Regions from separate parts of the Homo sapiens genome. Here region 1 is linked to region 2. Evidence: fine-mapped expression QTL. A gene starts in region 2. The other region holds a variant in brackets. All regions are shown on one strand. Distances are from middle to middle. Region 1 overlaps LINC00671 (long intergenic non-protein coding RNA 671). Region 2 holds the start of WNK4 (WNK lysine deficient protein kinase 4).

Region 1 (14,997 bases), 94 kb before region 2:
GCGAGACCCTGTTGAAAAAAAAAAAAAAAGCCAGTGGTGGTGGCATGCGTTTATAGTCCCAGCTACTCAGGAGGCTGAGTTGGGAGGATCACTTGAGCCCAGGAGGTTTAGGCTGCAGTGAGCCAAGATTGAACCACTGCACTCCAGTCTGGGTGACACAGAAACACCTTGTCTCAGAAAACAAACAGGCTGGGCACAGTGGCTCAAGCCTGTAATCCCAGCACTTTGGGAGGCTAAGGTGGGTAGATCACCTGGGGTCAGGAGTTCGAGACCAGCCTGAACAACATGGTGAAACCCCATCTCCATTAAAAATACAAAAATTAGCTGAGCGTGGTGGCGGGCGCCTGTAATCCCAGCTACTCAATAAGCTGAGGCAGGAGAATCACTTCAACCTGGAGGCGGAGGTTGCAGTGAACCAAGATCGCGCCACTGCATTCCAGCCTGGGTGACAGAGTGAGACTCTGTCTCAAAAACAAAAACAAAAACAAAACAAAACAACAACAAAAACAAAACAATACAAAAAGCCAAAACTATAGGAGAGGAGGGAAGGAGGCGAGGAATTTGCTGACATGGAGTCTCTGCTCTGAAAGTTAGACGTGAAGTCCGTGGCTAGGCTGGTTGCATCAGATGAGGCTGGCTGACATCTCCCAAGATATCTCAAGATGGTTTATTGGTGAATTCACCCCACTCCAAGGGAGAAGCCTGAATCAGAAACCAGATTCCTCAGCTCACCAATGGGAATTGTCTTTCAGGGAAGGTCTATATATACCAAAATTACACCTGAAGGTCAATCTGTTGATTTACTGTAACTGTCAAAGCAAAAGTAATTCTTATTAGAATGTCAATTAGTTCATTTACAAAAAGAGATGTAAGTGATGTGTCCATTTTCTTCCCATCACCATGATGTGGTGGGAAGCTGGCCTGTCGAGCTGGGAATCAGAACCAGCAGTTGGTCACAATATAGCTTCAATAAGGCCCGATGACTCCATGTGCATGGCTAAAGTGCCTCTAGGACAGGACGTGTCCTGGCCCTGGCCAGGTCCTCTGCTCCAAATGTGGCTGATTGTCACTGTCAGGGCAGGCTCTGTGATGCTCTCTTTCTGAGGGAGACGGGGTCTTCTCACTCTGTCGCCCAGGCTGTAGTGCAGTGGCATGATCTTGGCTAACTGCAGCCTCTGCCTCCCAGGCTCAAATGATCCTCCCACCTCAGCCTCCCTAGTAGCTGGGACCACAGGTGCATGTCACCATCCTGGCTAATTTTTTTTTTTTTTTTTGGTATTTTTGTAGAGAGAGGGTTTTGCCATGTTGCCAGGCTGGTCTCGAACTCCTGGACTCAAGTGATCTGCCTGCCTCAGCCTCCCAAAGTGCTGGAATTATAGGTGAGACACTGTGCCTGGCCCCTTTCTGCACCTTCTGATGGACACATTCTTTATGTCTTAGACTCTCTAGTCAGCTTCCTCTTGGGAGGCTTGGAACTGAACTACCATCTCCAGAGTTCTCCCAACCTTGGCTACACAGTAGAATCACCCGGGGAAATTTAAAAGCCAGTCATGTCTGTGGTTTGCCCCCAGAGGCTCTGATCATATCAGGCTGAGGCGCAGTCCGAGTATGTGGAGTTTTACAAGCTTCCCAGGTGATTTCAATGTGCAGTCAAGGTTGAGCACCTTTGTGAAAAGCAGCTCTGCATATTTCTGCCCTTGTCATTTGAGTGATGACTTTGCTCTGAGAGGGTCACTTAATATGGATCAGGTGCCAAGGGTTTCTCAAGCATTACCTTGTTTCATTCTTTTTTTTTTTCTTACAATATTCAGATGAGTCTGATACCTTGTTTAATTCTTCAAACAGGCCTACCAGGCAGTGGAAAAAGAGCCACGGCCCAGGGAAGGCCGTGAGGTGTAATTCTGCAAAGATCTGGGTTCACTCCCAGCCCCACCTTTTACCAGCCAGATGACTGTGGGCATGTTTCCTAATCTCTCTGAATTGTAGTTTCTGCATCTGTGAAATGGGTGTAATTAACATCTGCCTTTCAAGGTTGTTATGCGGATTAAGTGAAACAAAGATGGAAATTATCTGGCCCAGAGTATTCTGTCCTGTACTGGCTTTTCCTTCTCAATAGGAGAATTGGGAGTGACAGACATCACATTCCTTGGAGGTCCTCGAGAAAGGGAGAATTCCCCATCATATTCTGACCCGGAGATGTAAAGTTAAGAGGCATAAGGGGCTGGGTACTGTGGCTCATGCTTGTAATCCTAGCACTTTGGGAGGCCAAGGCAGATGGAATGCCTGAGCTCAGGAGTTTGAGACCAGCCTGGGCAACATGGCGAAACCCCATTTCTACTAAAAATACAAAAATTTGCTGGGGATGGTGGTGCGTGCCTGTAGTCCCAGCCATTTGGGAGGCTGAGGCTCAAGAATCGCTTAAGCCCGGGAAGCAGAGGTTGCAATGAGCCGAGATCATGGCACTTGCACTCCAACCTGGGCAACAGAGCAAAACTCCGTCTCAAAAAAAAAAAAAGTGGTATAAGAGACATGCAGCATGGAGGTGTTTGAGACCCGGGCCCTACTGAGAATGCTACAGCCTCTTTCCCTTCATATGATGAGGTTTCTGTGGCAGCTACAGGGAAGCTGGGGCCAGAGGGTCTGAGAGAAGAAGCAACAGCCTCTGAGAGGGAGATGAGGGGCAGATGGAGGGCCTCGGGCCAGCTCCCACTTCCAAGAACCATCAGAGAGGTTTTCTTGTTCCAGCAGCATCTCCCCTGGGCCAAGCCAGTCGGGGGGCCATGTCTGTCTGTCTGGGACCCACTGTCTCCCCCGCCAGCACCTAGCACAGTACCTAGTGGACAAATTCTATTTTTATTTTTTTTTGAGACGGAATTTTGCTCTTGTTGCCCAGGCTGGAGTACAATGGTGCAATCTCAGCTCACTGCAACCTCTGCCTCCTGGGTTCAAGCGATTCTCCTGCCTCAGCCTCCCGAGTAGCTGGGATTACAGGCACCTGCTACCACGGTCAGCTAATTTTTTGTATTTTTAATAGAGACAGGGTTTCATCATGTTGGCCAGGCAGGTCTCGAACTGCTGACCTCAGGTGATCCACCCACGTCGGCCTCCCAAAGTGCTGGGATTACAGTTGTGAGCCACTGCGCCCGGCCCCTAGTGGACAAATTCTACCACTGATGTCAAAGAAAATTAAACTGCAGCCTCAGCACTGCTGCAGGCAGCCCCGAATGTTTCCTCTTGAGCCTCCAGAGTGCATCTGCCCCAGACACTCATTTGCCATCTGACCAAGGAAGGCAAGAGGGTGATGGGGACACTTTTCTAGGCCAGAATATGGAGAGAGCATCTGGACGTCAAAGTCTTATGTCTTTTTTTTTTTAGACAAGGCTGGGGTACTCTGTCCTTCAGGCTGGGGTACGGTGGTATAATAATAGCTCACTGCAGCCTCGGACTCCTGGGCTTGTCACTTGATCCTCCTATCTCAAGCTTCCCAAGTAGCTAGAACTATAAGCATGTGCCACCACGGTCGGCTAATTTTAATAATTTTTTGTAGAGACAGAATCTCACTCTGTTGCTCAGGCTGACCTTGAACTCCTGGCCTCAAGCGATCCTCCTGCCCCAGCCTCCCAAAGCGCTGGGATTACAGGCACGAGTCACCCTGCCTGGCTAGGATTCCAGTGTCTTCAGATAGTTCCTTTGATGCGTAACAGGTAGGCTGTGGTTGGACCTTCCAGTGTCAGAGAAATCTACCAAGGCCTAAAAAGCTTTTGAGTGATTTAAATACATTATCACTTTCCAGATGAAGAAATGGGTTCAGATGGGGTGCTTACTCACGGCCACAGAAACCCTAAGGATGAGCCCAGCTGACTCCCTGAATCCCTTTTAGCTCTGAGCCTGTGAGTTGGCCATGTAAAAGCCATTGTCCAAAGCCAAGATCCAACTGGGTCATTCTTCCACTTGATAGCAAATTGGAACCAACCCAATTGCCCAATGGGGAATGATTTGTTTACTATCGACTTGATAGAGTACCTCTTATCCTTTAAAAACCATCCATTTGGCTGGGTGCAGTGGCTCATGCCTGTAATCCTAGCACTTTGAGAGGCCTAGGCGAGTGGATTACCTGAGGTCAGGAGTTTGAGACAACCTGGCCAACATGACAAAACCCTGTCTCTACTAAAAATACAGAAATTAGCCAGGCGCGATGGCGGGTGCCTGTAATCCCAGCTACTCAGGAGGCTGAGGCAGGAGAATCGCTTGAACCCAGGAGGCTGAGTTTGCAGTGAGCGGAGATCGTGCCACTGCACTCCAGCCTGGGCAACAGAGCGAGACTTCATCTCAAAAAAAAAAATCCATTTGAGTATTACATGACAACCTGTAAAGATGCTTATGATTAATATTAAATGGAAAAAGTAGAATACAAAAGTGTATTTAGACTGTGCTTACCTAACTAGGTAAACGCATGAGTGCATAGAGACAAGAACTGCAGTTTCACTTAGGTGAATGACAACGGGATGTTGGAAGGAGATTTGGGTGTCTTTAAATTATTGTCACATTGTTTTTCATGCAGCTTAAAGGTCTGGATCATCACTGCTTACAGATGAAGTACACACTGCCTCGCATGGCCTCCAAGGCTCTGCTCACCCCACCCCCAATCAGCCTTTGCCATTCTGCCACCCTCACCCCATGCTCCAACCATTGGGGCATTCACAGAACCACGAGCCTTCGTGCCTCTGTCACTGCCAGAACACTGTATTCCGCAGTCCACTACTTGACTAAATTCAGCTCATTCACCACTTCAAATGTCACTCCCCAACTCCCAACAAAAAAGATACAGAAGAAACTCACCATATTATTTGACTTCAGGGAGGAACTATTATCAGATGTGGGATGGAGACATAAACCCTTTTCTGAAATACAATTTTATTGAGCTATAAGTCACATACTGTATCATTCGCCCATTTAAAGTACATAATTCAATGGTTTCCATGGTGTTTGGTACATTCACAGAATTATGCAACCATGACCAGACACAAGTTCTTTTGTGCCTTTAGGATTTCGAACATGTGAATGTATTACTAATTGAATTAAATAAATGAATCCAATTAAACACACATAACCATCACTTCCTCTCTGAAGTCCTCCCAGACTCCCACCAGGGATAGATGGCTCCTCATTCTGTGCCCCACTTGTCTGTCATAGCTCTTTTTTTTTTGACAGAGTTTCACTCTTGTTGCCCAGGCTGGAGTGCAATGGCACGATCTCGGCTCATCACAACGTCCACATCCTGGGTTCAAGTGATTCTCCTGCCTCAGCCTCCCAAGTAGCTGGGATTACAGGCATGCACCACCACGCCTGGCTAATTTTGTATTTTTAGTAGAGACAGGGTTTCTCCATATTGGCCAGGCTGGTCTCAAACTCCTGACCTCATGTGATCCACCCGCCTTGGCCTCCCAAAGTGCTGAAATTATAGGTGTGAGCCACTGTGCCCGGCCAGTGTTTTTGTTTATAAAAAGACCTCTCCGCAGCCCAGACTCTGAGCTCTTTGAAGGCAAGTATGAAGAGAGTCATTTTTCTGTACCAATGCAAGTCTGGCATTCAGGAAGAGTCCCAGAAACGTTCGATGAGTGAATGAAGTTTTCTTTGCATCCGTGTAGATGGGGCATGGTAGGAGAGGCCAGAGGATGACCCAGCCCTCCTCACTTTGATCCTCATCTCCACTCCAACTCCACCTTCCCCCTTCCTCATCTTGTTCCTTATCCTGTCCCCTCCCCATCACCAACCTCCCCCCTATTCCCTCTCCACCCCCTCTCATTTCCATCCTGCTCCATCCCCACCCCCACTCTGTTCTCCAAATCCATTCCCATTTTGACCTCCATCCATCTTTATTTCTTGAATAGACCCAGTTTTCTGAAATGCAAAGATGTATTGCTGGCCTCTTAGAAATAGCAGTGGGAGCTCTGTGGGCTCAGAGACACCCTCTTCTCCTGAGTGTTCCTCCCTCCACCATGACATCACTATGAAGGCAATTTTATTTACCACAACAAATATTACTATAGAATTAACAGGGGCCCAACACATGGCAGGGACTGGAAAATACTTGCTGAATGAGTAAAGGACTTGTGAGTCTCTGGGGCAGCTGAATGAGACTGTTTCCATCACAGGACCCAGACGGGGAGGAGGAATGCCAGAGAAGCTGCAGACTCTCCGGCCACGGAGCCTGAGTGGAGCAGAGGTGGCCCACTGTCAGCCACAGGTCAAGTGTCAGGGTGGGGACGGGGCAGGCTCCACCAGAAGGCGGGGGCAGGCTCCACCAGAAGGCGGGGCCAGACCACAGGGCAAGGTGGAGATGAGTCTGTGGCACCCCCAGGAAGTTTACCAGATTTGCCCCAGAGCTTCTGACCCTTTGGATCTCTCTGGGCTGCATTCTTCAGGGTCCCATTGCTTCTTTCTTGAAGGTGGAAGGAAATGTTCCCATCAGAGCCTTCCAACAGGCCACCTTGGGGGCTTCTCCTGAGAGCTCCTTGTGCACACACCCCTTCAGGGTGGCTTGGGTTGCGCCCTCAGACCCCAGTGGGGGGCCGTATGGCATCCTCCTTGGTCAGCAAGTGAGCCACAGCAGCAGGCCCCTCACAGACCTCAGCCTGGGGCCACAGGTCCCTTCTCCCCATCTCCGCATCTGGAGAAGCAACCTGTGGAGCAGCCAAGAGTGGCAGCCCTGGCTCTCTACAGCATTCATTTTCAGGGCAAGACAGAGCATTTCCACTATTATGCTCCCCCCCCCGGCCTTTTTTTTTTTTTTTTGAGACAGGGTCTCACTCTGTTGCCCAGGCTGGAGTGCGGTGGCGCAATCATGGCTCACTGCAGCCTCGACCTTCTGGGGTCAAGTGATCCTCCCAATTCAGCCTCCAAATTTCTTTAAACAAAAAAAAATGCAAGAAAGGCAAAACAAGATATTTATCTGGGCTGAGAGGGTAAAGAGAAGCTCTATCTTTGAGCTGAGACACAAAATGGAAAGAAGAGGCAGCAGCAGCGGCAGTAGCAGTTCTGCCTTTCCAAACCTTCCCTATCTAAGTGCTTTCAAGATATGCTGAAAGTCATGAATTGAAGTGTGGTTCCCACGGCTTTAGTCCTTGTATGAAGGTCCTTTTGCTAGAACTTACTTCCTTTCCAGCCCATATGGTTGACCTGGGGGTCCAGGCAGTTCTCAAGGGAACCACAGGATTCCATGTGATCTGGGATCCCAGTTGATGATCCCTCTTCTGGTCACAAGCTGAATTGGACCCAAATCTGCACCCTAAACTCCCCTCTTGCCAGATCCTGCCCAGTCAGTGCCGTCCCCTCAGACTGGGTGGGCAGCCTGGGCTTCCTGCTGAGACGGGACCCCCCCCTCTCTTCTTGATCTCACTCCCAGGAAAGACACTGAAGGAGCAGAGGTGTGGACGCCACATACTGGGTAAGTTTCTCTTGCCTTGACACACCTGAGAAAGCTTGGTGTTTGAGCCCTACCTCCCCCTTACCTTACTCCCACTCCCAAATCCCCTCCTGGAAATTGTCCCGGTTCTTATTTATGCCTATACAAAGTCCACAGCCCATGACGGGCAGCCCTGGAGGCTGTTGCCCTGACCTGGCCTCTGGTCCCCCGCTGGGAGGCACGTGGCTCATTTGCATGCCAACTCCTGATGGGCCAGCTCCCCACCTGGCTGCCCGAGCTCCTGAGACTTTTTTTTTTTTTTTTTTGAGACGGAGCCTCACTCTGTTGCCCAGGCTGGAGTGCAGTGGTGCGATCTCGGCTGACTGCAACCTCCGCCTCCCAGGCTCAAGAAATTCTCCTGCCTCAGCCTCCTGAGTAGCTGGGATTGCAGGCACGCACCACCACGCCCGGCTAATTTTTGTATTTTTGCTACAGACGGGGTTTCACCATCTGCTGGGACGGGACACCCTCTCTTCTTGATCTCACTCCCAGAAAAGACACTGAAGGAGCAGAGGTGTGGACGCCTCATACTGCGTAAGTTTCTCTTGCCTTGACACACCTGAGAAAGCTTGGTGTTTGAGCCCTACCTCCTCCCCACCTTACTCCCACCCCCAAATCCCTTCCTGGGAATTGTCCCGGTTCTTATTTATGCCAATCCAAAGTCCAAAGTCCACAGCCCATGAGGGGCAGCCCTGGTCCGGCTGGTCTTGAACTCCCGACCTCGTGATCTGCCCACCTCAGCCTCCCAAAGTGCTGGGAATACAGGTGTGAGCCACTGCACCTGGCCACTCCTGAGGCTTTTTAGTGCCTACCCTCAGTGACTTTCTGGTCACCTATGCTGACTGCTGCAGAGTAACAGAGGCTACTGTCACCAGGGCCCTGGGACCAGATGACCCTTCATCTTTTTCATCCTTCCACCCACAAAACCCCTGGGCTGCTGCTGACACTTGACCATCCTTCCCCCTCACAAATGCATATTCCGCATGGCCTGTGTAAATGGCAGGAACTTGTAAGAGGATTATTAGTATAGGCAGATGACAAGATGACAGGAGAAACATTTTTTTATGACAATGAAATGCAGAGAGGCAAGATGAAGAAAGCTGTTCAGAGACATAGGTCCCCCAGAAGGAGATAACCAAGCATTGTCCTTCTTCAAACAAGACAGTACCTGCAGATCCAAGGCTAACCCAGCCCAGGGGCAGAGGAGGACACCAGAAGTAAGGAATGCAGGAAGGAACTACAAGACCTGAGGCAGCAGGGACGCTCCCACAGGACCTCCGCTACAAACAGCAGGGAACAGGCCAGGCGCAGGGGCTCACACCTGTAATCCCAGCACGTTGAGAGGCCGAGGCCGGAGGATCACTTGAGGTCAGGAGTTTGAGACCAGCCTGGCCAAATGGCGAAACCCTGTCTGTACCAAAAAATACAAAAATTAGCCTGACGTGGTGGCGCACGCCTGTAGTCCCAGCTACTTGGGAGGCTGAGGCTGGAGAATCACTTGAACCTGGGAGGTGGAAGTTGCAGTGAGCCGGGATCACACCACTGCACTTCAGCCTGGGTGACAGAGAGAGACTCCATCTCAAACAAAAACCAAAAAACAAAAACCAGCAGGGAATAGAAGCTGAAGTAGCAGGAAAACCGAGAGGAGGAGGACTTTGTCAGCATGAGAGGGAACAGACAG[A/G]GAGAAGGACCTGCTATTCAAGGCCCAAAACTGAGATGCACATCTACTGGGGAACCTGCTCTGGGGCTTTGGGAGAACAGTCTGGTCTCTAGAGGCTCCCTATTCACCTTTAAGACCCAGGGCAGTCCAGGCATGGTGGCTCACGCCTGTAATCCCAGCACTTTGGGAAGCCAAGACAGGTGGATCACTTGAGGTCAGGAGTTCGAGACCAGCCTGGCCAACATGATGAAACTCTGTCTCCCCTAAAAATACAAAAATTAGCCAGGCGTGGTGGCGGGCACCTGTAATCCCAGCTACCTGGGAGGCTGAGGCAGGAGAATCGCCTGAACCTGAGTGGCAGAGATTGCAGTGAGCCGAGATCATGCCACTGCACTCCAGCCTGAGCAACAAGAGTGAGAATCTATCTTAAAAAACAAAAAACAAACAAACAAACAAAACAGGACAGAGGAGAGCTAAGGTGGCCCAAAAGAGCTTCCAAATTTACTGAATGCCACTAAACTCTCACTTAAAAATGGTTAAAGTGGCCAATTTTTTTTTTTTTTTTTTGAGACTGGGTTTTGCTATTTTTGCCCAGGCTGGAGTGCAATGGTGCAATCTGGGCTCACTGCAACCTCTGCCTCTCGGGTTCAAGTGATTCTCCTGCCTTAGCCTCCCAAGTAGCTGGGATTACAGGCGCATGCCACCGTACCCAGCTAATTTTGTATTTTTAGTAGAGATGGGGTTTCACCACATTGGCCAGGCTGGTCTCGATCTCCCAACCTCAGTTGATCCGCCTGCCTCAGCCTCCCAAAGTGCTGGGATTACAGGTGTGGGCCACTCGCCTGGGCCAAGGTGGCAAATTTTATGTTACATATATTTTATACAATTTTAAAAGAAGGAAAAAAGTATAGTCACTTTGGAAAACAATCTGGCAGTTTCCCAAAAGGCTAAACATAGAATTACCGCATAACCCAGAAATTCTACTCCTAGGCATATACCCAAGAGAAGTGAAAACACATATCCACAAGAAAACTTGTGCATGAATGTTTATAACAGCATTATCTATAATGACCAAAAAAGTGGAAACAACTCAAATACCCACCAACGGATGAATGGATAATCACAATGAGATATATTGATACAATGAGATATCATTTAACCATGAAGAAGTGAGGCACTGACATACACTACAACATGGATGTATCTCACAAACATTACGCTAAGTGAAAGAAGCCAATCACAGAAGACAACGTATTGTTTGAATCTTTTCATGCCAGAATACAGGCAAGCCCAGTGGGACAGAAAGTAGGGAAGTGGTTATCTAGAAATGGAGAGGGATTGGGGGGAAATAGAAAGTGACTGCTAACACATACAGGGTTTCCTTCTGGGGTGATAAAAAATGTTCTGGAATTAGTGGCAATGGTTGCAAAACTTTGTGGGTATACTAAAAAACATGAAATTGGGCCAGGCACAGTGGCTCATGCCTGTAATCCCAGCACTTTGGGAGGCCGAGTCAGGTGGATCACCTGAGGTCAGGAGATTGAGACCAGCCTGGCCAACATGGTGAAACCCCATCTCTACTAAAAATACAAAAGAAAAAACAAAAAATTAGCCAGGCGTGGTGGTGGGCACCTGTAATCTTAGCTACTCGGGAGGCTGAGGCAGGAGAATCACTTGAACTGAGGAGGCAGATGTTGCAGTAAGCTGAGAACGCACCCTTGCACTCCAGCCTAGGCAACAAGAGCGAAACTCTGTCTCAGGAAAAAAAAAAATCATGACATTGTATATTTAGTTTTATTTTATTTTATTTTATTTTGAGATGAAGTCTCACTCTCTCGCCCAGGCTGGAGTGCAGTGGCGCGATCTCGGCTCACTGCAAGCTCTGCCTCCTGGGTTCACGCCATTCTCCTGCCTCAGCTTCCCAGGTAGCTGGGACTAAAGGCGCCCACCACCACACCTGGCTAATTTTGTTTTTGTATTTTTAGTAGAGACGGGGTTTCACCGTGTTAGCCAGGATGGTCTCAATCTCCTGAAGTCGTGATCCACCCGCCTTGGCCTCCCAAAGTGCTGGGATTACAGGCGTGAGCCACTGCACCCGGCTGAAATTGTATACTTTAAAGGGATGAATTTTATGGTATGTGAATTATGTCTCATTAAAAAAAACAAACTGTTAAGAAAACCAGGAGTGGTCTGGAGAAATGCTTAGCCACGGCTCCAGGCTCCAGGCTGGGCCATGCCTCACCTCTCTGGATGGGAACTCAGCACAGCTGGCATCAACAAAGCTGACTGTCCCCTGTGTCAGGCATCACAGGGTCAGGAGGCTCCTGGCTCAGAGGGGGATGTGAAGGAGGGCAGTGGAGGGAAGAGAGTCCTGGCACAGGGAAGAGGGAACCAGGCTGCCGGCCCAGTGCCCAGCTGCTCCCCATCCCTCACACCCTGGCCCTGGAGCCCTTGGCCACATGCCCCATCCCAGGACCGCCTAGTTGTGAGAGAAGCCCCCGTGGGAGAAGGCAGGGAGGTCGGGGGCACAGGCAGCAGCCTGGGGCAGGCAAGCTAGGGGGTTGACCTCGCAGGCCCCAGCATCCTGGTCCCCTCGGAAGTAGATGGAGTCGGCAGAGTAGAAGGAGGGGTCTTCGTCAAAGAAGTTGTAGGGTCGGAGGAAGAAGCCCACGCTGTTCCCCACAGTCACTGTGTTAGGAATGTCCTCTGCATGTGGGATATGCAGAAAACCAGCTGTCACCCAGGCCACCAAGTCCTAGCAGGGGAGAAGAAAGAGGATCACGAGGTCTGGCTTTGCTGAGGACATGCCCTGCCTCCCACAGTGACCTTGCAGATAGGGAGTCAGCTCACCCACCTGTATGTTCTTAGTTTCTCAGGAAAAATCTGAAATCATAAAGTTTCTTTCTTTCTTTTTTTTTTTTTTTGAGACAGAGTCTCGCTCTGTCACCTAGGCTGGAGTGCAGTGGTGTGATCTCGACTCATTGCAATCACCACCTCCTGGGTTCAAGCCTCAGGCACCCGAATAGCTGGAATTACAGGCACGCGCCACCACACTCTGCTCATTTTTGTATTTTTAGTAGAGATGGAGTTTCACCATGTTGCCCAGGCTGGTCTCGAACTCCTGAGCTCAAGATATCCACCTGCCTCAGCCTTCTAAAGTGCTGGGATTATAGGCATGAGCCACTGCACCCGGCCAAAGTTTCATTGTTAGTGGTTTCTGAAGATCCCTGAGGAATCTCGCTTCTGAGGCAGTGAAGTGGCTCATCTTGTCCCCCTGACTCCTCCCCTCCTCTCCAGCTGCCTGCTCACCCCTCCGCGCAACTAACCTGCCCTGCAATGGTCTCATTGTTGATGAAGTCAGTGAAGTCCACAGTGGGTGTCCAAGGGTCATTCAAATTGTAGATGCTGGTGCTACTAGGTTCCTCCTCCTTCCGCTGGGTTACCACCAGCTGGTACCTACAGGAGTTTTTTATTAGACCTACAAGTTCGTCAACTGTCCCACTGCCTGAAGCTGCACTGAAGAGTGAACACTAGGGGGAAATGAGCCCCAAAGTCTTGGAGTATTGAGCCTCTGTATCATTCTTTGTCCAGTTCTCCTTGCCTGTCTCTGTCTCTCTCTCTCTCCTCTGCAGACTTCCCCCACTTGTCCACTGTCCTGTACCTTAAACATCAACTGGCCCACCAGGCTTCAGGTAGAAATGTTGCTCATCCATCCATCTGGATCAGAGCATGATGTTGAGCCTGGGCCTTGGAACCATACATATGGACATGGCCTGTTTCCCATCCTAGGTCAAGTTCAGTATCTCAAATACCTAGATTTCAGGGAATCCTCCCTCCGATCTGTGTTCCCATCTCACTGTTTTTTTCCTCCAACCTTTAATGTGAACATTTTAAACATACAGAAAAATTGGAAGAATTGTATAGTGAACATCCACATACTCAAGTCTAGCGTCTACCATTAACATTTTCCTAGATTTTCTTCAATGCCTCATATCTCAGCATTCCTCCACCCACCCATTAGGCTTTGTTTTGAGTGCCTACAGATTGCGGCCACAGGAATGTGTGTGTGTGTTTGTGTGTACCTGTGGGAGGTGGAGCAGTGTGGAGCCCTTCATACATTCTACTTGCCCCACTCCCTCCTGACCGCCGACCACTCACCTCCCCCAGCTGAAGCCTCTCTCCACGGAGCTGTTCTGGGGCAGTGGCTCCCCAGAAAAGCTGCGCACCTGGATGCGGTAGCCCCGGGGGTGACCCCACTTGTTGCTGTGGTTGCTGGCCAGGTACAGGTAGCGAGGGGTGGCGCCTCCCATGGGGAAGGTGGCTTGCTCCTCTGTCTCCAGCAGCTTCCGGGTCACCTGCAGCCTCTGCATCTGGTGCTCAGGGCTCCAGGGCACAGCCATGGGGACAAAGGCCATATCCTCGGCCCAGACCCAGTTCTCCAGTCCTGCTCAGGGTGGGATCGGGGAGGGCCAGTCATGCAATTGCCCTGGCCCCTCTGGACTCTGCCCCCACCTGGCTTCAGAGTGGGGGCAGAGTGGGGGCCAAAGAGCAGCCCAGAACTGAGTGTGCCCCTGCTTCTCTTCCCTCTCCCCAAGATAGTCCCAGTCCAGGGATTTGGAGGAGGGCTTTCTCCCTTCTGTCTTCTCTGGTAATAATCCCAGATGCCTTGCGACTGGGCCTCCACCAATGTCCTCCCTCTGAGGGGCTGCATGGGAGGGTGTTTACCTGAGGTTGGAACAATCCTGTGGGCAATAGGCAGGTGGCACTCCCTCTGACCTGAAGACTTCTCCTCACATGTGAAGCCCTGTGGCATTGCCAGGACTGCCTTATCATGAAAATAAGCCTCACATTGACTCAACCTGAAGGAGCTGTGTAGGGAGCATGCCGAGTGCCTTCTGTGTATTCATGCTTTCACTTCTACAACAATCTCAAAAAGGAGGAACTATCATTGTCTCCATCTTACAGATGGGACAACTGAGTCTTAGAGCATTCAATAATGTACCCTGGTTGGTCAGCAAGGACACACGGTTAATATCATGGCAGTGCTGGGGACCTGGTTCTTAGTCTGGCCTTACACTGCCCACACATCAGCACATAGAGGAAGACAGCACAGAGAGACACCACAACAGAACAGCAGACATGGGGACCAAGGGGAAGGAAAACCAATACTGGGCCCGACGCTGTTGGGGCTTGGAGATACCTTTCGCAGTTTGAAATTTGGCAGGGAGCAGGGAGCGGGGCTTAAGACACAATCTGTTTCCTGAACTTTTGGAGTCTGAATGATTTTATTTGAGTCTAACTAGGTCCCATATTAGGAGTCAAGTTAAGTGATCTGAGACAAGGAGCAATAAATCAAAACATGCTGGTAGCTCCCTCTGCACCTTCCAAAGACCAGGAGAGAGGAGAGACTGATTCAGCAAACCCTTAGTTTCCTTTTGTAGATTCACTGCCCCTACTCCATATCCCAGTGTTTCCACCCTTAGGTGACAATTGCCGACTAAGAGTTTTTTTTGTTTTTTTGGTTTTTTTGAGACAGAGTTTCGCTCTCGTTGCCCAGGCTGGAGTACAGTCGCATGATCTTGGCTCACTGCAACCTCTGCCTCCCAGGTTCAAGTGATTATTTTGCCTCAGCCTCCAAGTAGCTGGGATTACAGGTGCACACCAGCATGCCCAGCTAATTTTTGTATTTTTAATAGAGACGGGGTTTCACCATGTTGGCCAGGCTGGTCTCGATCTCCTGACCTCAGAAGATCCACCCACCTCAGTCTCCCAGACTGCTGGGATTACAGGCGTGAGCCACTGTGCCCGGCCAGAGACTAAGAGTTCTTTATGGTCCACACACACAAGTAGGCTCCTGTGGCTAATCACAACA
Region 2 (14,920 bases):
CACTTCTACATTACACTGTGTCGTATCAGAACATCTTTGCAAAACAAATACTATCATCTGCATTTTACTTACATGCAACTGAAGTTTACAGAGTTAAGAAACTTGCCTAAGTTCATTGGATTAGTAAATAACAGAGCTGAAGTTTGAACTTAGGTATTACATGAAAGCGACCCCTTCCTCTATTCCAGGCTGTTCATCAGGAAGAGAAGAGCAGTCTAGGCAGAGAGAACAGTGTAGTAGCTTTGAAGCATGAAAGGCATGGTACATTATTATTTTTTTTTTTTTTTGAGACTGAGCCTTGCTCTATCACCCAGGCTGGAGTGCAGTGGCACAATCTTGGCTCACTGCAACCTCACCTTCTGGGTTCAAGAGATTCTCCTGCATCAGCCTCTTGAGTAGCTGGGACTGCCTGGCACCATGCCCAGCTAATTTTTATATTTTTAGTAGAGACAGGGCTTCATGTTGGCCAGGCTGGTCTCGAACTCCTGACCTCAAGTGATCTACCTGCCTCAGCCTCCCAAAAGTGCTGGGATTACAAGTGTGAGCCACTGCGCCCGGCCTATTCAATCTTTCTTTCTTTCTTCTTTTTTTTTTTTTGAGACAGAGTTTCGCTCTTGTTGCCCAGGCTGGAGTGCAATGGTATGACCGTGGCTCACCGCAACCTCCACCTCCTGGGTTCAAGTGATTCTCCTGCCTCAGCCTCCCAAGTAGCTGGGATTACAGGCATGCGCCACCACGCCCAGCTAATTTTGTATTTTTTAGTAGAGACGGGGTTTCTCCATGTTGGTCAGGCTGGTCTTGAACTCCCGACCTCAGGTCATCTGCCTGCCTCGGCCTCCCAAAGTGCTGGGATTACAGGCGTGAGCCACCATGCCCGGCACAGCCTATTCTTAAAATAGTGAGGACTCAAGTGTAGCTGAATGTGCTGTGAATTTTAAAGGCTTTGGAATTTGGACCTTACTCTACAACCACAAGTAGCCACTAAATAATTTCGGGTGAATATCAAGAGATCAGATCCAAGTCTCAGGAGAATTCTGCTGCAGAGGAGTGGAGGGTGGACTGGGTAAGGAGAGAAAAGAGGGCAAAGGACTCTGGGTGCATGGGGTGGGGTCACTTTGGCTGTGCAGGATCAGAGGGGACTTGAAAGCCCAATACAGAAGGCTCTACGAGTGAGAGACCCTTAAGGAGGTGGAGGCAGAGGCAGGAAGGCACCCAGCCTTTTCAGAGGCCCATTTTGAAACCAGTGTGGCTGGATGGAAGACTCTGAAAGAGTCAAGTGGTTTGACGGAAGGTGATGAGCCTTGTGTGCCAGGTGATATTGTGTCTTTGTCCTGGACACAAGGTGAATGACATGATGGAGGAGATGCTTTAGAGAGGGCTCCTGATGCCTGGTGTTTCTCCCATTCCTTTCCCTCCTTCACCCCATGGGCTGGCATCCACCACCCCCACTCCACTGAAACTGGTCTCCCACAAAGATCTCCTAACAAAAGCCAGTGTGGTCTTGCCTGAGGATTCATCCTATGCCACCTCCTTGAAACTCTCTCCTCACTCAGTTTTGACTAACATCCTCCTACGTCTCTGGCTTTGTCTCTGTGTCCTTCGATGACCTACCCTCCCGCTTCCCACTCCAGAACTGGTGGTATGCGCTGAGACACACTCTGCAACCCTCTGTGTCTCTGGCTTTGCCGGCTCATCTCCCTTCACTCTCAACTCTGTACTGACTACTCCTCCATCCACATCTCTCCAGCCCTGCCTGACCCATATCCATGGCTATGGAGGGTCTTGTCTTGGCTGTCCCTTCTTCACTCAAGCTCATCATGACCTCCTTAAAAAAAACCTTCTTTCATTTCTAATTTCCTCTCTCCTTTGGTGGCCTACTCTCCTACTCTCCTTTGGTGGCCTACAAGTTGTCCTTGACATCCCTTCTCCCTAACTCCCAATCATATCAACTCAGCAAATATTTATTGAGCATCTACTATGTACTATGTTCTCTACTACGTCAATAGGTTACTGGATTACAGAGTAACTTATTTTCCCGAAACAACCCTCAGATTCACCCTTTCTCCTCTTCCCTCCCATAAGCCACTCTCTCCTTTGTCCACAGATGGCTTCCTGGGTCTACCTCCCAGGTATTTTCCCTTCCCCCTTCCACATCCCATGGCAGATGATTTTCATAAAGCCTACTGTCACGTTACACTGTGCCTTTTTGTTTTTTTGTTTTTGTTTTTTTTTGAGACAAAGTTCACTCTGTCTTCCAGGCTGGAGTGCAGTGGCGTGATCAAAGCTCACTGCAGCCTTGACCTCCCAGGCTCAAGTGATCCTCCCACCTCAGCCTCCCAAGTAGTTGGGATGACAGGCATGTGCCGCCACACACGGCTAATTTTTTAAATTTTTTGTAGAGATAGGGTCTCATTATATTACCAGGGTGGTCTTGAACCCCTGGGCTCAAGCAATCCTCCTACTTCATCCACCCAAAGTGCTGGGATTACAGGTGTGAGCCACTGGACCTAGCCTGCTCTGCCTCTCTATTTATTTATTTATTTATTTATTTATTTATTTATTTATTTATTTTTAGACAGAATCTCACTCTTGTCGCCCAGGCTGGAGTGCAATGGTGTGATCTCGGCTCACTGCAACCTCCGCCTCCCGGGTTCAAGCAATTCTCCTGCCTCAGCCTCCCAAGTAGCTGGGACTACAGGCATGCGCCACCACACCCAGCTAATTTTTGTATTTTTTAGTAGAGACGGGGTTTCACCATGTTGGCCAAGCTGGTCTTGAACTCCTGACCTCGGGTGATCTGCCTGCCTCGGCCTCGGCCTCCCAAAGTGCTGGGATTACAGGTGTGAGCCACCACGCCTGGCCTCTGCCTAACTCTTAACATTGTCTATTCTACAATCTGGGCCCACTCTACCTACCCGGCTTCACTCCCCACAACTCTCCTATAGGAATCTTTACTTCCAGTGATAGTGGTTTCCTCATGAAGCCCTCCCAGCCCCATATTCCAAGACACTCTCTACTTGGAATGCCTTTGCTTATGCTGTCCCTGCACAGGGACACCCTTCATGGCCTTTCCACCCTTCACAGCCTTTCTTGCCCATTTGCCAAGATCCTGGGTAAGCTCATTGCCCCTGCTGCCCAGTCCATCCTTCACCTACAGCCACAGTATTGCACATCTACCAGGCACTTATACGTAGCACTTGTGTGTACCCGGTCAATGTGAGTCTCAAATTGCTCCAGCTGAGAAGCCAAACCTCACTGGATAAACAGAAATCTCCCCCAAAACAAGGGCTGAGACATCTTCAGCGTTACTGTGCTAAGTGTCAACCAGAGATTTAAAAATGCTTGCTGTCGGATCAGTGGGTTTCAGCCCCAGCGGACATCAGGAAGGAGACTCTTGTTCCAGATCCAAACACTCTGTCCTCATCTCTCTCCCCCTCACCATGGCAGCTGCAATCTCTTCCGGGCTGTCCCCATCCAGATCAAATCGGAAGGTCACCATCTTGCTGTTATGGGTCTGTAGCTGGCACTCAACCACTCTGTCATTCTGGTCTGAGACCTTCAGATTCAAAGTCAGCAGAGGGGAGAAGGTCAAGCCCTCTTCATCATGCTGTGTCTCCACCCTACCCCAGCCAAGTGACAGCAGCCACAATGGACTTGGAGATAAGTAGACCCCACCTCTAAAGTCTGGTATTAGAAACCAGACTGGCCGCCTCTTGAGTACTAGTCATACACTGCTTCTCCCGTTTTCTGGGTGACCTCCCCCGCCTCCCCCTGACACTTCCCTCCTGGCCCTGTAGGTTACTCTCTATCTCCTGTACTCCATCCTTACACTAGTGACCCGCAGCCGGGATCGGGGTCTGCGCCGGAGATTCCTCCCTGGGGGTCTCCTCATTTGTCCCATCCCTTCTCCCACATCGCTAAGGCCTGAAGCTGCATCTGAGGCATAGCTGTTAAAGAGAAAGGAGAGAGAATGACTGTCAGAGCAGACACTGGGACCCCAGTGCCCCAGGTGTCTCACCCTGGCACCCCAACTTGTACCAGAACATACCTGTCCCCGGGGGAAAAGTCACTTCCAGGGCCAGAACGTGGAATGGATAGGGCAAAAGCCTGAAACAGGATAAGGGTTCATGAGGTCAGGGGAAGATAACTGTTGAGATCTAGGGAGATGGTGTCAAGGATGCTGGGAGGATATTAGGGAGATGGAATTAGGGAAGAGGAGGGCAAGAATGGTGGATTTCCAGGGACATGGGACTGGATCATGAGATTGGGTTTCACAAGGAGGGAGATAGGTCATAGGCTTGGAATGGCTGGGAGCCCCCCATGCGACCCCCTCTCACCGAGGGCAGGCAGAGATGGGACTCAGCCAGGCTGGATGGCACCCCCCCAGGGGGCTGAAGGGCAGGGTCTGAGGCATCCAGGAAGCCGGAGGAGCTGAGGTAGCCATCAGTCTCGCAATCCGCTGGTTGGGGAGGGAGAGGATCAAAAAAAGGGGAAATAAAAGGGAATAGTGGCAGAGGATGGGGCCTGCCTAAGCAAGGAGGGGCCTGGAGCTGTGGGAGAGTTCCTTCCTGGAGGGAGCTTCATGGCTAGAGGTGGAAGGCAGGGTAAGTGACTGCTGTGGGGGTGAACTTCTGGGTAGGGGGCAGAGGCCAAGGTGTTCTGGGACCTACGTCTCAAGATCAGGGGTGACTTACAAGTGGTAGATGAGTAGCTGGCGTGGCGGAAAAGGAAGGGCTGGTGCTGGTCTGCCTCTGGCTCCTCAGGCTCAGGGGGGAAGACACTGGGGGGACCGGGGGCCATGGGCACAGTTGCTGGTGGAGGTCCTGGCTCTGGTGGGAGTGCCTCCAATTCCCTTGCTTTACGCAGCTTCTCACGCTTTCGCTGGATGGCAGCAACCCGTTCACGTACTGCACGGGCCACTGGCTGGTAATCGGCTTCACAGACCAAGCCCAGAGCCACCTGGAATTGGGGTGGGGGATGAGGAACACAGCTTGGGACCCCCTATCAAAGATCCATCAGGACGCCTTCTTGGGAACTCCAGGATATGGGAGGAAGAAAACCAACACTTACTGATTACCCACTATGTCTGTTAACTGGCAGCTCCTTACATTATCATCACTAGATCCTCCAAACAACCTTGTGGGATAAATCTTACCATTCGATTTTTAGAGATTAATGAAGTAGCTGGTTCATAGTTATACAGTAAGTCAGTGGTTTCCAATGGGAAGAAGAGATGTTTGGCACTATCTAGAGACATTTTTAGTTGCCACAACTGGAGGGTAGGTGCTACTGAATCTAGTGAGCGGAAGCCAGGGGTTCTTCTCAACATCCTACAATGCACAGGACAGTCCCTAAAACAAACATGTCAACAGTGCCAAGGCCAAGAATCCCTTGTCAGCAATGGATCAAGATTTGATCTCAGGTCAGGTTGGGCCGTGCTATGGAGACCTGCTCTAAATTTCTAACACATTCTCAGATTCTTGACCTACCGTAGGTGGTCTCCACCCTTGCAACTGTCATGTCTCTATTAAGAATCCCATACTCGGCCAGGCACGGTGGCTCACACCTGTAATCCCAGCAATTTGGGAGGCCAAGACTAGTGGGTCACTTGAGGTCAGGAGTTCGAGACCAGCCTGGCCAACATGGTGAAACCCCGTTCCTACTAAAAATACAAAAATTAGCTGGGCGTTGTGGCTTTTGCCTGTAATCCCAGCTACACAGGAGGCGGAGGCAGGAGAATTGCTTGAACCCAGGAGGCGGAGGTTGCAATGAGCTGAGATAGCGCCACTGCACTCCAGCCTGGGTGACAGAGTGAGACTCCATTACTCCCAAAAAAAGAATCCCATACTCCCTTCAGGACTTCCTAAGCCAGCCCCCAAGCTTCTGCCCTTGCATCTTATGCCTCTCCCCTTCTACCAGCTTCCATTCATCACCTCCTCATTCCTTTTAGCCGCAAGCTTTGCTGAATGAGTAAAGGAGGTGGGGAAGGGTAACCTGATTTAAAATCTGAACCACCTCAGTTTCAATCCAGCTCTTCCACTTACTTACTTGGGGCCCTGGACAAGGTATTCAACCTCTCTGAATTTCCATTTCCTCATCAACAAGTTGAGATAAAACTGCCCCCTATGCAGGATGGGTAGCAAAGATCAAATGCATGTGAAAGTGCTTTAAGCCATGTACAGATGTAGGCTATTAATGAGCTCTTACTATGTGCCAAGCACTGCCAGGGATAGAAGAATCGATAAAACACAGTCTCTGCCCTCAGGGAGTTTATAGTCTAGTGGAGAAGAAAGATAGGAACTTATTCAGGTTTAAGACAGGACCGATAGTGGGGAGTGCTGTAACCGAGAACATGCTGAAGTGGAAAGAAGCATTTAAGTTTGACTCCAAAGGGGACGGCTTCCCGAAATCGATGGTTCTGATCATATTGGAAGAAAAAGAAAAAGAAAAATGGGGAGGGAGGAAAGAAGGAAAAGATGAATTGGCAAGAAGGGCATCCCAGGAAGAACAGATCAGCTGGAGGTAAAGCAGGGACGCTGGAGGACCCAGGGCTCCCTCTGTAAAGGAAAACTGGGTGTGCGTGCGGGTAAGTTAGGGCTGGAGAGGTAGGGAGACGCTGCAGGAGATTTTGAGAGGGGTGAGGTGCCCCGCCCCCATCGCTGCCACCCCTCCTGCGCCCCATCCCTGTTGCACTGTCCCCTCGAGTCAATGTCCTTTACACGTCCAGTGGCAGCACAGTCTGTCCTCCGCTCACCATCTCCTGTGCCACCTCCTCGGCCGCGTCCCGGCCCAGCTGGAACAGGAACTCGATGGCCTGGTTGTCCCGTGGGCGCCCCCCGCGCCGCGCGTCCTCCATGCGCAGCCAGAGCTTGAGGCCCGGCTTCTCGCCGTCGTCCTCCTCCGCTAGTTCCACGTGCACACCGCGCTCCTCGCGGAAGAAGGCGTGGGCCAGGAGGTCCTGGATGGTGAACCTGAGGGTGACGCGTGGGTGAGCCGAGCCCGCCGCGGCCCGCGGCCCTATTCTACCCACGCTCTGCCCTTTCACCCCCACCTCTCGTTCTTATCCGTGCGGATGCAGCCTTCAATGATCTCCTTCACCTCGGGTATCTTCACCTTGTGGAAGCTGTTCGGCTTTCTGCCCTGGGGAAGGGGTTGCATGACACCTCCCGTCCTCTGATCCCCAGCTCTCGGCTTGACACCACCCCCCACCCCTTACTCCACTCCCTCCTTAGGCAGCTGCGCGTGCAGTTGCAAAAGCCTGACTGCTACTGGAAGATGTGATTTCAAATCCTAATCCCCGCCCCCCCCCCAAGTATTTACAGTGTGATCTTGAACAAGTCTCCCGCTGTTTGTTCATCTGTAAATCGCAGGGTGGAACATTTGCCCCGCTCACCTCACAGGGCAGCTGGAAGGATTGGATGAGAGATGGGATGCGAAATCATTTGTGAACTCTTGGGAGCACCACACATATTATTATTCTAAATAGCGTGTACTGGTGGGGGCGCGTGTGCACTCAATATCCTTCTGTGTTCACCAAGGCGACTCTGTGTCTAGCCTGTTTTCGTGCAGGCAAAGGGCATTGACTGCGGGCTGGCCGGCGCAGGAAAAGGGGAAGTGGCCCTGGAATTGCCTTTCCCGCCAGCCCCATCCCTCTCACCGAAGTGACCTTGCGGTAGATTTGCGCGGCATTCTGGCACTCGGAGTACGGGTACTCAGAGGTGGCCATCTCCAGCATGCACATGCCGAACGCGTACACGTCCACGGCCTCATCGTACTTTTCCTCGTACATCTCGGGGGCCATGAATTCCGGGGTCCCTGTAGGGTCCACAGCAGGGATCAGATTGCTGGGCACTCTGGCCTCGTCCTTCCCACTGGGCTAGGCAGCCCCAGGCAACCCTGCGAGTGCAAGTGACCCCGGCCCACAGTGGGGTTGAGGTGGGTGCCATAGGTCTCCTCAGCTTCCCTGTCGTCTGGTAGTTTTGTGGACCTTGAAGGCCCTTGCTGAGGGGAGGGAGTCCCCAGGTTCTCTTCTGAGGTGGGGGAGGAAGGAATGGCATGGACCCTCCTGGAGAGACGCACCGATGACACTCTTGGCAAAGGAGGCGCGCTTGAGCGTGGCCAGGCCCAGGTCCCCGATTTTGACAGAGCCAGTAGGTCCCGTGATAAAGACATTGTCGCACTTGAGATCCCGGTGCAGGATGGGAGGAACCCGGGAGTGTAGGAAATGAAGTCCCCGCAGGATTTGGCGGCTCCAGCGCTGAAGGACCCGCGGCTTCATCTCCCGGAACCGCCTCAGGTACCTGGGGGAGGGCGCATAGCCAGAGTCCTGGTGGGGGGACACGTCCTCCGGGAAGGAGCCCCCCACTGGGAAGTTCCCCCCTGCCGCACCCTGCTGCCGCCTCCGCATCTTCTGCCAGCATTCTCCTAGCCTATGTCTGCCCGGCCCCAGGGAGAAACTGAGTCAGGGGGCATGGTGGATAGACATGACGTTACCAAACGGGTTGGGAAGTAAATTGATAGATAGGGCCTCGGCCAAGGTGCTGTGGGAGCGCAGGAAGGGATGACTAACTGCCCCAAGCATGAGGGAGAGCTTCGGAGAGGAAATACTTTTGTGTTGCATCTTGAATGATGAGTAGGAGCTCAAAGGTGAAAGGGGGAAGGGATGGAGACTTCCCAGGCAGACAGGACACCGTGCTCAAAGGCACAGAAAAAGCCAGTGACAAGGCAGGGTGGGAGGAGGTGCCAGGAATTTGGTGTGTCTGGAGCTTAGGCTGAAAGTGAGGCTGTATCCTAAGGACTTTGTGAACAGGTGAGCCTGTGTGGGCTTTATTCCAAGGCCATGAGAAACTTTGAAGGGGTTTTAAGGAGGGGAGTGACAGTTCAGATTTTCAACTGGGAAAGATTCTCCAGGCTGCAGGAAGATAGGATCGCTTAGAGGGTGGCAGAGTTTGGGAAGGCCCTTTAGGAGGCTGCTGCAGGGCTCCAGATCAGCGAGATGGCATTGAGGTGGTGGCATGGATGAAGCAGTGAAAGCCAGGTGGGGAGAGGTTAAGGAAAGACTTGGGGACAGACTGATGAGGGGGCAGAGTGGAGAAAGAGGAGTCTGGGGAGACACCCAAGTATTTTACTGGAGTGCTGGGTGGACATTGCCACTCACCGAGGCAGGGACAAAGGTTGGGTGAGAGGGAGATGGTGAACCTGGTTTTACACCTGGATATTAGAGAGTTTGAGGAGCCTGGGAGTTCAGGAAGCAGTGGGCACACATCCCAGCCTCCCTCTCCCCACCCACTCATGCGCAGAGCTCACGTCTTGAGCGTGCCCGAGGTCATGAGTTCGGTGACCAGCACGATGCAAACCTGGCCCCTCAGCACCGACTTCCACGAATCATAGAAGCGGACGATGTTGGGGTGCTGCAGCCCCTTGAGCATCTCCACCTCCTCTGAGAAGCGCTGCCGCTCAGCTCTAGACAGTTTCCGAGTCTGTGGGATGGGGGACGGGTGTCATGTCAGGCCCAGGACACCCACAGAAAGGAAGAGGGACACCTGGAGTGGGGTTGGGGGAAGAGGTGAGGGTTGGAGCCCACAGATGGGGTGGGGTTAATGGGATTACTTGCCCAGTGGGCTGCAGACCCTGAACTCTCCAACAGTCCCGCACGTAAGCTGATCCAAGGACACACCCAACCTGGGCCTGGGGCAGCCCCCTAGACCCCCTGCTGGACACAAGCACCTTTATGCAGCCCGGTCCCAGAGCCCTGAGCTCAATAGTGCCTTTGTGGCTGCCCAGGCCGGCCATGGGGCGGGAGGGGGCACCCGGGGGCTGGCAGTGAGCAGGCAGCAGGCGGGCAGCAGGATACTGCGGGCAGGGAATTGGGGCCGGCAAGGGGGTTGGCCCCAGAAACAGAACTGCTAGATCCAGACGGAAGGCGGGAGGGATATGGAGGGAGGTACTGAGAAGGAAAGAAAAGATCCAGGACTAGGCGCCAGGAGGCTGCCCACCCCCATAGTCGTCCCGCCCCGGCTCCTCTCCCTCCCCTCACCCCCCAATTTGGCTGCCTCTCCTGGCCTGGCCCAGAGCCTGGGGCGCGGCACTGGCAGGCGCAAGGGGCGAGCCCTGTGCCAGGGCTGGAGAGGGACCCTTCCCCTAGGCTCTGTCCCCTGATCTGAATCGGAAGCTTCAGGCCCCAAGTTGACTGGGTTCTCCTAACCCATATGTAGCATGGGAGCAATGGGAGGAAGGTCCCCCTAAAGCCCATGGGCTTAGTGCCTTTAGGTCTGGGAAGGGAGAGCACAGGTAGGCAGTGGGATGAGGAGCAGAACTGGACTCACTCGAGAGCTGGAGCTCCCTATGTCCCCCTCCTCGCAGCTGTGGAGAAGTCCAGAAGTCTGACTGCTCCAGAAGGGGTTAGGGGGCCCTATTCTGCCACAACTGCCCTAAATCTTCTGGAGTTGGAGATGACCCTTGCCCAGCTCCTGGCTTCCCGCATCCCAGCCTCCTGGTCTGCAAATAGGTGGGGGACGGGAGGAGTGAGGGGATCAAGAGGACCAGGGTCATAACTGAGGATCTCAGGACTTAGGGGAGAGGAAGGGATTGCGGGTACCCACCAGCAGGAAACTGACCTGAACTGGCTCCCCTGCCTAACTTCCCATCCTATTTTCCACCTCTCAGGGTTGAGTATGGAGACTTTAAAGTGAGAATGTTCATACCCATGGGGGAGTCACCAGACACCACCTGCCTCAATCTCTCCTTCTGCAGCCCAGAGTCAGCCAGATCATTCAGGGCAAAGACAGCAGAGGTGTCTATAGACATTTGACTGGAAAAATACATGCTTCCCTTGATGCTGTCTCCCCCACCCTCTGTCTGTCATCCTAAGACCTCCAGAGTCCCATCCCAAGGTGCCACCGAGGGGGCTCCCAGCCGCACCTGCAGCTCACACCAGGCCACCTCCACTGTGGTGTCGGTGTCTAGCCCTCGATACACCGTCTTGAAGGAGCCACGTCCAATCTCGATGTCAAACTTGAGGTATCGGCCATCGGGGGACGTTGCCACAGCCTGGGTCTCCATGTCCTCCTTTTCTTCCTGCTCCCGCCGCCGCTCTAGGGCCACAGCTTCAGGGACCCTTAGCGGCTCCCTGGACCCCGGGCCCACTGCAGAGTCCGGGAGCTCGGGACGCGCGGAGTCTTCCGCAGCCTTCACAGGGGCTCCCTCGGTCCACGTGCCCTCGGGGGGTTCTTTGGAGCTAGGCGGTGGGCTCCTCGCGGGGCCAGGACCAGCGGAGTCCGGAGGATCGGGGGGGTCCGGAGCGGGTGAGGCTGGCAGGGACCAAGAGCTCAGCAGCCCCAAGTCGACTGAGCTACGGCGGCTGAGACGAGAAGAGCGCGGCCGGGGCTCAGCCTTCCCGGAGAAGCGGCGCGCTCGGCGAGGAGGGGGCCCGAGGCGGGGCTGCCCCGCGGTGCCAAGAGGAGGCGGGGGCCGCAGGGCCAGGTCGGCCTCAGTCTGGGACATGAGGACGGTGGTCTCCGTGGCCGGGGATGCCAACATGAGGAAGAGCAGGGCGCCGAAGGGTAGAAAATCAGACGGCCGGAGAGGAGGCGGCCTGACAGACGGACTCGCTGGGTGCGCTGCGCTCCGGCTGAGCGGCTGCGGCCCCAGCCCCCAGCTCGGCCTGGCCCCGCCCCCGTCGCCGCCCCGCGGCCCGCCCTTGCCCCCCAGGGCCGCCCCTCCGAGCTGCTCCCGCGGTGCGGATCCCGCGAGCAGCCCCTCACCTTAGTCACCGCCCCGCCCAGCCGCGTCCCCTTCTTTCCCGAGCCCCCGGCCGCAGTCTCACTCTGAGGCCAGAACTGAGTGGGAGACCGCGGAGCATCCTCCCGCACTAAGAGTGAGCAAACCTGTTTGTGCGCGGAGGAGGGCAGGAGAGAACGACACCCGGACCCTAGTGGGGGATTACTTAGGGGGAGGCTACCACCCTCCTGCACACCCCAGATAAGGCAGCACCACCCCCTCCTAACTGTCCGGAGTAGCCCCAGGCCGAACGGAGAGGTCAGTGGAAAGGTCTGACGTTGTTGTCCCTCTGGTCTGCATAGGGAATGGGTGTGTACTCCCCAGGATAAGTCCCTCCCCCAAACCGAGAGCCCGGTCATCCATCCCCTCCAGGCCACCTTGGCCGCAGCCTAACCCTGGCCAGAGTGGCTGTTTTTGCTATATGGGCTCTCCTTCCTCCCCTTCTGTTTGCCAGTCTCCAATAAACCAAAGTCCACATCCGGCTTACCCCCCTCAGCTCCCCTTGGCCACAGTTACCCCACCCAGACCAGATGGGTGGAGGGAGGGGCTTCAGAGTAGTTCAGGACTTCCATGAGGGAGATGGTGAGGGAAGGGGGAGCCCTTAAGTGACTCCAATTCAGAGAGAAAGCAGTCTGTCCCCAAGCTGTGTTCCATCAGCACTCCTCCACACAGCCCACCCAGCAGATGTAAAACCACAGGCTCACTGGAGCCCACAGGGCCCTGGAGGACCTTTTCTTCTACAAAAGCCATAAGCTTTCTTTTCTCTCCCCTCTCCCAGGCTGGGATTTACTCAGGTGGCAACACTTCACAGCCCTCCCCATCCCCATTCCAGTACTGTAGTAATTTAAGAGGCAGGCAGTGGGAGTTGAGATTTTAATATCATAAATCGGTGTGGGGCCACACCTCTCACTGCCAGGCCCGTGGGCCTCCTATCTTCATATTGCCTGGAAGGCTGCCTGCAGCCAGGGCTTCCCCCATCCCCTAGGAAGGATCCAGCACCAGCCTGAGAAGGGAGGCAACAGCAGCTAAAGGGGTGGGAGGAGGAGGAGACAGAAGCATGTGCTGCAGGCGCATGTGTGTATGTACTTACATGTGTGAACACATATAAAGTGTCAGGTTTACAGACCCTGGCTCAAGGACAGTCTAGGATGGGAAAGGAGGTAGGGCGAGAAGAAGCACATATTTTCTCCCTGGTGCTTCAGCCTCACCCTATCCAAGGGACAGACATATGGGGTGTGAGAAACCCATCCCCAGGTCCCAGCCTTCAGGACTGGAGTCCTTTTGAGTCTGGTGGAGTCACAGATCCAGTCTTTGGGGGACACTGGGTCTGTCTCCTTTTGAAAGCCCTGGAAAGGTGGGAGGTAAGAAGTAAAGGGAGACAGGTCCCTGCTAGAAGAACTTGACGCCTCGGCCATCGCTGACAGTGATGATCTCGGCCTTGTGCTCCTGCTGTAGGGCCTGCAGAGCCCGCAGTAGAGTGGCTTCATCCAGCCCGTGGAACTCTGAACAGGGAGAGATAGGCAGAGACAATCAGCTCCTGAGGCCCAAGGCCTCTGAGGAGAGTGCTCTGGCTGGAAGCCGAGACCTCCCAGAGGCAGGGTATGCATAAGCCATCTATACTGCTACAGCTGCCATCCACACTTCCCAGGCACTCCTTAGGAGTAAGGGGTGGAAGAAAGCCTGAATCAGCATGAAATGAGTTTGTGCTTATTTCCCCCTTCTTGGTTCTCCTCTCAGACTCAGCCTCCCCCACACCTAGCATTTGTGTCTGATGCACGAGAATGACACCATCTGCTTCAGGGCCACAAAGGGGCCGTGAAAATCAGGCCTAGGGAGATCGGAGCCATTGTCACTAGACACTGACCCTAGAGGATCTATCCTAACACAAAGAATATAGCCAGTACCCCTGGCCAGGAGACTGTTAAACTCCAGCACTATTATCTGCCCTTTTTCTAGCTTTTAGCTGGGAGCACAGGCCAGGCGCGGTGGCTCACGCCTGTAATCCCAGAACTTTGGAAGGCTGAGGTGGGAGGGTCACTTGAGATCAGGAGTTCTAGACCACCCTGGCCAACATGGAGAAACCCTGTCTCTACTAAAATTACAAAAAATTAGCTGGGCATGGTGGTGGTCACTTGTAATCCCAGCTACTCAGGAGGCTGAGGCAGAAGAATCACTTGAACCCGGGAGGTGGAGGTTGCAGTGTCAAGATCGTGCAACTGCACTCCAGCTTGGGGGACAGAGCAAGACTTTGTCTCAAAAAAAAAACCAAAAAAATTGGGGAGCCTATGGCTAGCTGAGTATGTGGAGATATGGTAAGATACTGCAGGGAGATGTGGGAGGCAGCAGGCAAGCCCTGACAGGCTTGCTTACCTCACCCCCTGTGGGGGCTCAGCTAAGTCAGGGAGCTTGCTTTCTGAGGAAACCTACAACTTTGCCCAACCTGAGTGGTGGGCTAGGCAAGGCTACAGTGCTGAAATCATGGGGTGATGGTGGGAGTAGCAAGCAGAGACCTGCAGGGCAGCAGGGGGAACAGCCAAGAGCTATAAACTCTGCTAGGGCAGCCAGGGCCTGGCAGAAAGGGGAGACACCCTCTGTTATCCCAGCTAAGATCGAAACTTGTGGTGATCCAGAGGATCAGAATCTGGAGTCGGAGAAAAAGAACTAAGAGTGTTTACGCTATGTAAAAATCAAACACTATACAAATCCTTGCCTGGCCAGAAACCAAAGTATATAAATGGGCTGGGGGTGTTGGCCTAATCTCTTCAGCTGACACCCACAGATCTTGAGCCCTCTATAAGAATAAAGGGTGAAAGAGAGCCTGAGTCAGCAAGGAATGAGATTTCAAGCTTAATCCCCTGCCCTTGTTTCTCATTCGGCATCTATAGCAGATGCTGAATGAAGAAAGTTATTTATAATTTTTTTTATTGTTATTATTTTTATTTTCTGAGACGGAGTCTCGCTCTGTCATCCAGACTAGAGTGCAGTGGTGCGATCTTGGCTTACTGCAACCTCTGCCTTCGGGTTCAAGCGATCCTCCTGCTGCAGCCTCCCAAGTAGCTCAGATTACAAGCATGCACCACCATGCCCGGCTAATTTTTGTATTTTTAGTAGAGACGGGGTTTCACTATGTTGGCCAGGCTGG

What was found.
Region 1: its variant is fine-mapped to the expression of WNK4 in esophagus mucosa (GTEx, PIP 0.98).

The regions. Positions count from the first base shown.
Region 1 is chr17:42,870,977-42,885,973 of GRCh38, reverse strand. LINC00671 (long intergenic non-protein coding RNA 671) reads left to right here. Exons shown (of 6, transcript NR_027254.1): 3 at 1,288-1,379; 4 at 6,156-7,447; 5 at 7,901-7,999; 6 at 11,111-11,300. Among named protein-coding and RNA genes, the nearest start is that of LINC00671, 20 kb to the left of the region's middle. RefSeq lists an enhancer at 7,645-8,174. The variant A/G (reference allele first, on the strand shown) is at 9,147.
Region 2 is chr17:42,777,317-42,792,236 of GRCh38, reverse strand. WNK4 (WNK lysine deficient protein kinase 4) reads right to left here and starts at 11,627. Exons shown (of 19, transcript NM_032387.5): 1 at 10,921-11,627; 2 at 9,307-9,479; 3 at 8,080-8,300; 4 at 7,658-7,815; 5 at 7,052-7,140; 6 at 6,755-6,971; 7 at 4,695-4,959; 8 at 4,338-4,459; 9 at 4,049-4,107; 10 at 3,830-3,947; 11 at 3,440-3,556. The coding sequence starts at 11,538. VPS25 (vacuolar protein sorting 25 homolog) reads right to left here. Exons shown (of 6, transcript NM_032353.4): 6 at 12,638-13,280. The coding sequence ends at 13,168. RefSeq lists enhancers at 7,571-8,202, 8,108-9,307, 10,597-11,554.